Homo sapiens: one gene and its partners. The protein of the gene in region 2 interacts with the protein of the main gene of each other region in a biochemical or structural test. Each region holds a gene or a part of one and is shown on either strand. Other genes may lie near its edges.

The links.
Region 1: the proteins of BACH1 (region 2) and BATF interact in a test that uses a peptide from one of them, tested with the Homo sapiens proteins (one large-scale study listed by IntAct).
Region 3: the proteins of BACH1 (region 2) and ATF1 interact in a test that uses a peptide from one of them, tested with the Homo sapiens proteins (one large-scale study listed by IntAct).

Annotation. Positions count from the first base shown.
Region 1 is NC_000014.9:75,542,873-75,546,525, reverse strand, and holds part of BATF (basic leucine zipper transcriptional factor ATF-like), read right to left. Parts: intron 65-3,653; coding exon 1-64. UniProt on the Homo sapiens protein: AP-1 family transcription factor that controls the differentiation of lineage-specific cells in the immune system: specifically mediates the differentiation of T-helper 17 cells (Th17), follicular T-helper cells (TfH), CD8(+) dendritic cells and class-switch recombination (CSR) in B-cells.
Region 2 is NC_000021.9:29,301,843-29,305,495, reverse strand, and holds part of BACH1 (transcription regulator protein BACH1), read right to left. Parts: intron 293-3,653; exon of another isoform or gene 174-292; intron 1-173. UniProt on the Homo sapiens protein: Transcriptional regulator that acts as a repressor or activator, depending on the context. Binds to NF-E2 DNA binding sites. Plays important roles in coordinating transcription activation and repression by MAFK.
Region 3 is NC_000012.12:50,767,074-50,770,726, reverse strand, and holds part of ATF1 (cyclic AMP-dependent transcription factor ATF-1), read right to left. Parts: exon of another isoform or gene 3,574-3,653; intron 1-3,573.

The DNA of each region.
Region 1 (3,653 bases), on a different chromosome or scaffold from region 2:
CCTCTGTGAGCTGCTTGATCTCCTTGCGTAGAGCCGCGTTCTGTTTCTCCAGGTCTTCGCTCTCCTGTAGGGGTGGGGATCAGCACCGGAGGTTAGTGTCTAGGAAGGAGGCAAGGTGGGTGGGGTGCGGAGGGACACAGGAGGGGCCAGATTAGTTGTTCACTAGCACAGCCATGGAGAAGGGCACCAGAGAATTTTCCTGCACGTGTGAATGTGTGCACAAGTGTATATATGTTTGTAGGTGTGTATGGGCGCGTTTACGTAAGCACATGGGTGGGTGTGCATGTATACACATAGATATGAGGCTGAACCACGTGAAGCTGCTGATATTTGTCTGTTGTGACCTATAAGAATAGCAATTTCAGGCCGGGCGCGGTGGCTTACCCCTGTAATCCTAGCCCTTTAGGAGGCCGAGGCGGGCGGATTGCCTGAGGTGGGGAGTTTGAGACCAGCCTGGGCAACGTGGCAAAACCCTGTCTCTACTAAAATACAAAAACAGAAATTAGCTGGGTGTGGCAGTGCGCCTGTAGTCCCAGCTACTCAGGAGGCTGAAACAGAAGCATTACTTGAACCAGGGAGGCAGAGGTTGCAGTGAGCCGAGATTGAGCCACTGCACTCCAGCCTGGGCAACACAGCAAGACTACATCTCTCCTCCCGGCAAAAAAGCAATTTCATATGGTTCAACCTGATAGAGGGGTGTGTGTGAGTGTGTTCCTCTGCGTGTATGCATGTAGGGGTCTCTGTGAGGGTGTGTGGGTGGGAGGTGGCGGGAATACAGCAAGGGAAAGCAGCTGGCAGGCCAGAGCCTAAGGAAATGGAAGGTCGTTTGTGAGAACGTCTTACACCAGTTTCACTCTTTTCCACTGTGTTATGCCACGTGTTTTCCAAAAGCTCCCGGTGTCTGCATTTCGTCTTACAAATAAAGTCACTGGATACTTGTCTACTGCACCCAGATTCTAGAATGCTCAGGGTCTTTATAAATAGTAAATGGGGCCAGGTGCGGTGGCTCATGCCTATAATCCTAGCATTTTGGGAGGCGGAGGTGGGTGGATCACCTGAAGTCAGGAGTTCGAGACCAGCCTGGCCAACATGGTGAAACCCTGTCTCTAAAAATACAAAAAAAAAAAAAAAAAAAAATTAACCAGGCGTGGTGGTGCACACCTGTAATCCCAGCTACCCGGGAGGCTCGGGGAAGAGAATTGCTGAAACCCAGGAGGCAGAGGCTGCAGTGAGCCGAGATCATGCCACTGCACTCCAGCCTGGGTGACAAAGCAAGACTCCATCTCAAAAATAAAAATAAAAATAAAAATGAAATAAATAAATACTAAATGGTCAAAGTCTGCTACAACGTTTTGTTCCACCCTGTCCGGCCTACCAGAAAGCATTCTGACGGTATTTTGGGGGTGTCCCAAGCCTGTGAGCTTCTCTTTTTTCTGGAAACTCTTTTCCCTGTTGCTTGGGGGAACCATCAAATACATGCTAATCAGAAAAATGCCTGCTAAGAAGTGCTGATTTCTGATCACATCATTAATTAATCAACAATTGCAATCTGGTAATTAGCAATTATGGAAAAGCAATCCCATCCTCAGAAAGCCCAGGAGATCGCAATTCCGGTATAATTTTAAGGTTTACATTATTCGACTCAACCAAACAGACTTTCTCTGCTAAGCATTGGTAACCACAGAGGAAAGGCAAATATCATTGGAGATGCAAAAAAAAAAAAAAAAAAAAAATTTCAGTTCAAAAGGCAACCTGATATTTGGAGACCAGGTCTTACCTTTCTAAATCTATTTGGATTAGGTCAGTATTTCCCAAACTTGCCATATCATGAGAATTAATTTGAAGGCTTGTTAAGAATAGAATTTCAGGCCCATCCTAAAATCTAGGAATGTGAATCAGTGGTTTTGGGATTTGCGGAGTGAAGTCTGCAGATCTGAATTTTTTTTTTTTTTTTTTTTTTTTTGAGACAGTCTCACTCTGTCACCCAGGCTGGAGTGCAGTAGTGTGATCTTGGCTCACTGCAACCTCTGCCTCCCAGGTTCAAGCAGTTCTCCTGCCTCAACCTCCCGAGTTGCTGGGATTACAGGCAGGCACCACCACGCCTGGCTAGTTTTTGTATTTTTAGTAGAGACGGGGTTTCACCATGTTGGCCAGGCTGGTCTTGAACTCCTGACCTCAGGGGATCTGCCCACCTTGGTCTCCCAAAGTGCTGGGATTACAGGCGTGAGCCACCATGCCTGGCTGCAGAGCTGAATTAAAAAAATAATAATAATTTTTTTTTTAAATCCTAGCCACTAGACTACTAGGGAGTGAAATTTGGATTTTTAACTAGTGCCACAGGTCATTCTAATGATCAGGCAAGTTGGAAAGCACTAGTTAAATATTATTTTAAATTTGTTTTAATTATTCAAGCACTTATTAAATGCCTATTTGTTAATGCCTGGCTCAATGCCTGGCACATAGTATGAACTCAGATGTTTGTTGACTGACAGACTTATGACATCATCTGCTGGAATGAAGAAGGTAACTCAAAAATAGGGTGGGTGGTGAGCAGATGTAAGATAACTTGACATTTAAAATTTGCCCTAAATAGGCTGGGTGCAGTGGCTCACACCTATAATCCCAGCACTTTGGGAGGCCGAGGTGAGAGGATCGCTTGAGCCCAGCAGTTTTTTGGTTTTTTGGGTTTTTTTTTTTGAGACAGTCTTGCTCTGTCTCCCAGGCTGGAGTACAATGGTGCGATCTCAGCTCACTGCAACCTCTACCTCCTGAGAGCCCAGGAGTTTAAGACCAGCCTGTGCAACATTATTGAGACCCAGTATCTACAATAATAAAAATAAAAGAAAATTAGCTATGGAGCACCAGGGGTTGGAGGCTGCAGTGAGCCATGATCATGCCACTGCACTCCAGCCTCACTGATGGAGTGAGGTCCTCTCTCAAAAAATAAAATAAAATAATAAAATAAAATTTGCCCTAACGAATCCATCAGGTGCATGAGCTGTAGGCTAATGAGGTTAATCGGTTATACTGTCAATCATCTTAAACCCCACATCCTGGGGGGGGTCTTTCTAAATGGCAGAGAAGCATATACCAACATGGCCTTGCTCATCAAGCCAGGTTCCATCATCTGTGAAGGACAGACACAAGCATGCTCAGCCTCAACCTGGCATTTCTTGAATGGGGCTCTGAGCTAGAAAGTGTGCCAAGGTCAGTACAAAGGAAGCCCCTCTAAAACGGGGCAGAGGAGTTATCAAGAGCCACGATGATGGAGTCACAGCCCTGCCTTCTGCAAGGTGTGGCCGGCTCATTCATTTTACCATTTGGGTATTTCCTGGCACATCCCAGAAGGAGGGCATCCCCTCTTTACCGAAAGGTAAGATCAAGCAACACGATGAGACTAGGGGGTGTTGGTAAGACGGGAACTGGGGGCCGGGAGTCCTGGCTCCTTCCTCTAGCCCTTTTCTTCGCCCCCTCTGAGAGTTTCCACTGGTGACAACATTTACTGTAAATTCTGTGCTCTGAAGAGCCTGGGCAAACCCCGAGGCAGAAGGGAGGGCCACTCTGACCTTCTCCCCGCCTAGAGGCTGGCCCAGCTTTCGGGAAGTGACAGCGGGTCCTTCCTCCCTAAGCAAGCTCTGCTGAGCTCACTCTAG
Region 2 (3,653 bases):
GCCCAGCCTTTCTGGGGTCTGGAAAAAGACAAACTAGTCCAAAGACAGGAGGCCCTCAGAGACAAAATATACTTTTTAGAAATCTAAAAAAAAATACCTATAGTTTGAATAGCACTTGTGACAGTCTTTTACCACAAAGAGACAACGAAGTAGGGAAAGTTAATCGTAATTACATGCTCATCCCCAAGCAGCATTTCCTTTGACTTCTCTGGATGACAACTGAAACTGAAGGCATGCCAGCAAAGAATCCGAGTGAGCTGGGCAAAATGCTCTCTACTTCAACAGTCTTTTGCTAATGTGAAAGAAAAAAAAAAAAACAAGATTACAAAAGCCAAAAGCTTTTTTTTTTCTTACCTCTTTTAACCTGAATTATGACTCTTACCTAGGGGAGTACCCAAGGCCAGGCTGAGATACACCTCAGAAAAACAGTTGATAAAGAGACATCAGGTACACTGGAAATTGAAGAGGCCTGGGCCAAGATCAGATAACCACTGTACATTTTTTAAAATAATATTTAAATATAAAATACACATTAATGAAATTACAACCTAATAAATTTATTCAATCTTTTATAGCCACATATTTTATAACAAAACTGTCTGATGGATGAGCAACTGCACTAATTTAGCTGACTTCTGAAAGACGCTGGCACACTTTAGAAAATGAATAAGGCAATAAGCATGTGAAGATATCAGTAAAGAGGAAGTTGGGTGGATAGGTCGCCCTATTTCTTCAATAGGACCCTCAGGAGTTCACCTCCTTAGGACAAAAACACCTCCCTAGGGTCCTGGAGGCAGACAAATCAATAAAAAGAAGAGATAACTGGAAAAAAGGTGTGTAGGGGGAGGGAGGGACATTTCCCTTACTATACTATTTACTCTACAGCCTTAGAGGTAGGCTATTACTAATGTCCAGGCTACAAAGGAATTGAAAACCTTTTTTAGTGTAATTCCACTTTAATGAGGGATGGGGAAGTAGAGTGCAACTGTCCACTGACTGATCTGATCTAAAAAAATGATAAATTTAAAAAGTGAAAAAAACTTTACCTGAAAGAAACTGGGAATAATTAGGGGCCAGGCACAGTGGCTCACGCCTGTAATCTCAGCACTTTGGGAAGCCAAGGCGGGTGGATTGCTTGAGGTCAGGAGTTCGAGACCAGCCTGGCCAACATGGTGAAACCCATCTCTACTAAAACACAAAAATTAGCTGGGCATGGTGGGGGGTGCCCCATAATTCCAGCTACTACGGAGGCTGAGGCAGAAGAATTGCTTGAACCCAAGAGGCGGAGGTTGCAGTGACCCGAGATCGCGCCACTGCACTCCAGCCTGAGCGACAGAGTGATACTCCATCTCAAAAAAAAAAAAAAGAAAAAAAAAACTGGGAATAACTAGTTTATTACAAAAATATTAGTTTGAACGATGACTTTCCTAAGGCACTGCAAAAAGTGTTTACATTTATTTTTCAAATAACATGATCTGCACAAAATTTCAGCTGCATTAATGTAACATTTTCTAAATTGTGCCCGTACTGAGAAGGAACCAGCTGCCAGCCAATTTCACTGCATGCCCACTGTGTTTCTACACTGGTCATTAACAACCAAGATTCTGGCTACCACTATTTCTTCTTCCTCACGTTTGCTTCAGGGCAGTTTTTTATTATCCTATGAATATTTGAATATTTTCTAACCTGTCCCTGATCCTAAATAAAACAAAGAACCTGTTCTAGAGGAGTGATATTCAAAGTATTAGACATATAAGACATTTAACATCTAGAAAACCAAATTATATTTTGCTCAATTCAATTCTAATCCAATTATGGGTAAAAATAAGTCACAAGACAAGTTTTATGTCTATCTTAGGAGATGAACTAGAATTACTTAATTCCAGCTGCCTTCTCAATAATCACACCAATGATAAAAACAGAAAGTAGAAAGCTAAATAATCAAAAGAATTTCAACTCAGTGCACACTTACAAGGTACCACACACGATGTTCTCTCCTTCAATCTGTTAAACATTCCCAAGTTTCAAAATCACAGAACTAGAATGAACGCATATCATACCACCCAGTTCAGCAACCAACAGTTTATTAAAGAAACACAGCCAAGGCACATTCAGAGTGCCATAGGAGATAAAACAGAAAGACACAGATTCTCACCATCAGGAAACTTACAATCTGGCTGAAAGAATGGTCAAAATAACACAACCTTTCTGAATTACTAACAGGTACAAAAAGCTATACGATAAATATGTCCATTGTATTCATATCCATTTCATGGATAATTTTTCTGTATTAGTACAGGCATATCATCTAAAGAAAACATAATACTTAGAAGAAACTAATTAGCTTACAAATTTACATTCTAAATGTTTCCAACAAACTGGATAGGGCCCAGGAATATGTACTGAGAAACTAGTTCTGTTCTGGTATTAACAAGAAGGGAGGGGTGGACAGGTTACTAAAGCTGCCAGGCCACAATGTCAACTACAACGTGGAAAAGACTAGCCAAAGAATGGCAAGTGTTTTTATTTCGTAAAAGCCAGTTTCAATTAACTGGTTAGTGACTACCTCAAGCACTCCGCTGAGACTGTTAAGATTCCTTTAAGTAAAAAGCTATGTCCTGTGTTCGTTGCCCTCAGAAGTTGGATGTATGTTTGAGATGGTGCTACTGACTTAACATAAGAGTGTTCCCCGGGTTGTTTTTCCAGTCTCACTTGTGATCAATGCCGGCAATTCAGCTCTCAACAGCTATAAAACACTACTGTGTAACTAAGTACTTCCCTGATTCTGAACAACAGATAATAACACCTAACACTTGATGTTTCTTATAAAGCTGGCACTGTTCTAACCACTTACCCCGTATTAACGCATATAATCCTCACAACAACCTCTCTGATACAGATTCTACTATCACCACCCCTGTTTTACAGAGGAAACAATGAGGCACTAGTTACCAGGTAGAAGAGCTTGCCCAAGGCTTTAAAGTGGGTGACACAACCAGAACCTGACCTTAAGCAGTCTGGCTCCAGAACTACTTTTTAACCATTCTGCTTACTGCTTCTTTGTCAACTGTACAGTGATCAAACCCAGACTTCAGTTATGTTAGTGCACTGTGTAAGCCAGGTGCCTGGGCTTCAGGAGAGTGTAAGTCAATGTTTTAGCTGCAGTCCTGAAATGTTTACTCCCTCCAAGGGGCACGGATTCTGGCGAATTGCACTCAAATTACCCATACCTTGGCCATCGGTACATTACCTCATTTGACATATATTTTAAATCAAAACAATCTCAAAAATCATCGTTCCACCACATAAAATAAACCCTCTGTCTAGAATGCTCAGGGAATGCAGGTTTTAGGGTTAAGACAATTCTCTCATTAACAGAACATTAGTCAGAAAATTAGAAGAGAGGTGGTGATTCCTAAAACGTAAGTCATGGAGAGATCAGCACTATGAAGAGAAAATCTGACAAGTGGTAATTTTAACGGGCTTTGCAACTGTTATTCTGAGCATCACCTCTCACAGTACAGGGGTGTAGAAGGCACATGGCACATGAGATTTAACTGAATGGTAAATACTAACCACCCTCACCGCCGCCACCCGCCCCCAGCACTAGTAGGAGGTTGATATTCTGAATAAATGCCACTTCCCAAGGGATT
Region 3 (3,653 bases), on a different chromosome or scaffold from region 2:
ACAAGTGTACCATAGTTTTTGAAACATAGTATTTCTCTCTCCAGTTTCCCATTTTTACTAAAGACAAATTATGGTAAGACTGACTTGCTTTATTATACTTGGCCTGATTGTTTGTATAAAGTGCAGCAAGAATAATAATTTTTCACATAGGCTTTTTAATTGGCTTTGATGGAACTCTGTTTCATAAGGAATCTCAGATAAGACTTTTTTAAAAGCCAAGCCCTGACATGGGTTTGTACCCTTAAATACCTATAACTTGGGTAAATTTCTCTCCTTTTGAGGTCCCAAGATAACTTGGGGCTCCTGGACAGGTGAGAAAGTGACATTCTTTACTTACCATAGGTCAGAAACCCTGTACAGGCACTGTGTAGGCAAGGTATGAGGCCAGTTCCCCAAAGGGCTTTTATTGGCTCTACAAGTCAAGTTTGATTCCTTAAAGAAAAGCACACCATTTCAGTCAAAGCCTTGGTAAAATAACCACTTTCTCCAATTGTATTCTGTTACAAAAGAAAACAGATTCTTATTGCACTTATGCAAATAATTACATTGCCATAAGTTAAGAATACTCACAACTAGTTTCCAAATTCTGGAGAAATCTGATATAGAGAAACAAATATGTTCCAAATTTCGTTCACAGCAGTATACTTTACTCAATTGCTATGAACTGTAAATAGCTCAAATGAAAAGTTTCCTTGACTCTGAAAAACAAAACAAAGGATCAGCAACATTTTAATCAAAGATTACTTCAGTTTTCTATTGGTTCAGTTGATTCAATTAACTCATGTTTCATTTGATATTCATGAACATTCTAGCTCTTCATGAGTTCTGAAAGTTGTTTCCTCTATTCTAATGTTACAATTTCCAAAGTTATTAGAAACCTGCATTTAAGAACACCTGCTAGAGTTCTATAGCTGATTATAAATCATCTTCTAAACAGGATTAAAACAAGACAACAATTGTCTGTGGATGATAAAAAGTTTTAGGAGAGCCACTATTAAAGCCAGAAATGATAAGGAAATTTGGTTACTTCTGTGGCACACAATATTTTGCATAACAATTATAATTATTAATAACATACACTAAATCATATTAGAATTATAGGAGTTTCCCATAACTTTGGAACATATACCAATAATACAGTTATGTAAATATAATCCAAAGAAAGCAAAACACCATTTGACATTTGATAATGCTTCCTGTATGAATTTTTTTTTTTTTTGAGATGGAGTCTCGCTCTGTCACCCAGGCTGGATAGAGTGCAGTGGTGCAATCTCAGATCACTGCAACCTCCCCCTCCCAGGTTCAAGCGCTTCTCCTGCCTCAGCCTCGAGTAGCTGTGACTACAGGTGTGCGCCACCATGCCCGGCTAACTTTTGTATTTTTTGATAGAGATGGGGTTTCACCATGTTGGCCAGACTGGTCTCAAACTCCTAACCTCAGGTGATCCATCTGCCTCGACCTCCCTAAGTGCTGGGATTACAGGTTTGAGCCACTGTGCCCGGCCAACTTAGAATAATTATTTAACTCTTTAGCCAAAAAACCCCACATTTCCATGCCTTCTTATAATCTTTTACCAAAAGTACATTCTATTTTCCTTACTACACACCTTACATGTAAAACTGTCTCTTCAATAGTCTCAGTTACATGTTCCAATTTTAACTTTTAGCGACTTTTACTTTTGGTGAAAACCCTGGTTAGTAAGCAATTTTAATTATGTACTAGGTGTGGAGCCTAGCCTAGGACACACCAGGCAGAAGTGCAGATAAGAGCTGACTCTCCAGCACAGCTTAGGGGCGTGGCTAACTCCACATGTCCCCAGGCCTTATCTAGAATCTAATGGCTTTAAGGTAGGGTAAATTGAACAATTTTTAAAAGTCAAAGAAACAGTTTATGACCTCAAATCATTTAACAAACTTAATATCTGACCTGCATAATTAAGATTAACATTTTTATCAATTTTAAAGATGTGTTTATTTCCTAAAGATTACTAAAGTTACATGAACTAAAAGGCATTAGTTATTTTGCTTTCAAAATATTTGATTTAAATGTTTATTTTTGTTTAAGCTGATTAATCAGAGCTCTTTTATATAAATATTACACACGACACCTATATAGCTACACAGAAAGACAGATGATGATGATAACAGTGGTTGTAAGATTTTTCATTTGCCAGTTTTTAAGTTTCTTAATTGGATTACCGGCTTCAGGGTGGAGCCCTTGGAAGAACAGGGCCACGAAAGGGGTCTCTGGTGCCTCTTGTTTTTCCCAAGGAGTCCAGGCTGTTAGAGCTTGAATATCCACTTTTAATTAAACTTATTTTAACCATAGCACTCTTTAATAAAGTCCTTTTAGAAGTTTTTATGCCAAACGGCTGGTATTTCTGGCTTTTGAATTTTATCAAAGGTAACCTCCCAGGTGCTTAGAAAAAGGAAAATATAAGACAGTTCACAGAGGAGAAGAGAATAGACAAAGTCATGCAGATATTAAACCAGAAACGACTTACTTCCTAGGTGGGTAATTGAACCTGGACTGTTGCCACGGAAGTGCAAAAGCTGGCTGGGTGCGGTGGCTCATGCCTGTAATCCCATCAGTTTAGGAGGCTGAGGCAGGTGGATCACCTGAGGTCAGGAGTTCGAGACCAGCCTGCCCAATATGATGAAACCCCATCTCTACTAAAAATACAAAAATTAGCTGGGCGTAGTGGCACACACCTGTAATCCCAGCTACTTGGGAAGATGACGCAGGCAAATCACTTGAACTCGGGAGGCGGAGGTTGCAGTGAGCTGAGATCGCACCACTGCACTCCAGCCTGGGCGACAGAGCAAGACTCCATCTCAAAAAAAAAAAAAAAGAAAGTGCAAAAGCTTAGCTACTGAGCTACAGCACAGGGCAGTCTCTGTTGACCTTCCCAGAAGGAGTCTAGAGTAGTTAATTTTGAGCTTATAAGGGCTTTTAACTATTTAATATTATTTTTAGAGCTAACTATGACATGAATCCTGAAATTCCTGTTCTCTGAAGGTGGGGACCAAAAGAAAGTACCACCACATGGTTAAAAGGTCAAGCTCCCAAGGACGTAAAACAAGGTGGAGACTTCATCCAGTCTTTTATTTGTTACAGGGACCTGCAGCCAAGTATCTTACTGACCAGCTTGCTGGGTCATCTTGAAAAGCGAGCTTACAGGTGTTCTTTTTTTTCTTTTTTTGAGATGGACATGGAGTCTCGCTCTGTTGCCAGGCTGGAGTGCAGTGGCACGATCTCGGCTCACTGCAACCTCCGCCTCCCGGGTTCAAGTGATTATCCTGCCTCAGCCTCCCAAGTAGCTGGGACTACAGGCGCACGCCACCACACCCAGCTAATTTTTTGTATTTTTAGTAGAGATAGGGTTTCACCATGTTGGCCACGGCTGGTCTCAAACTCCTGACCTCAGGGGATCCACCAGCCTCAGCCTCCCAAAGTGCTGGGATTACAGGCCTGAGCCACCGTGCCAGGCTGATTTTTTTTTTTTTAACCATTCACTTAACCATTTGTACAGTGAGAGAGAAGCCAGAAATCTGACTGGTAATACATTCTTACCCTTTTGCCAGCATCCCAGGCTTCTGGGTTCCCTTTCCCTTAGTGGTCCTAGTGTTCAAGCTTGCAGCATCATTGCCCTG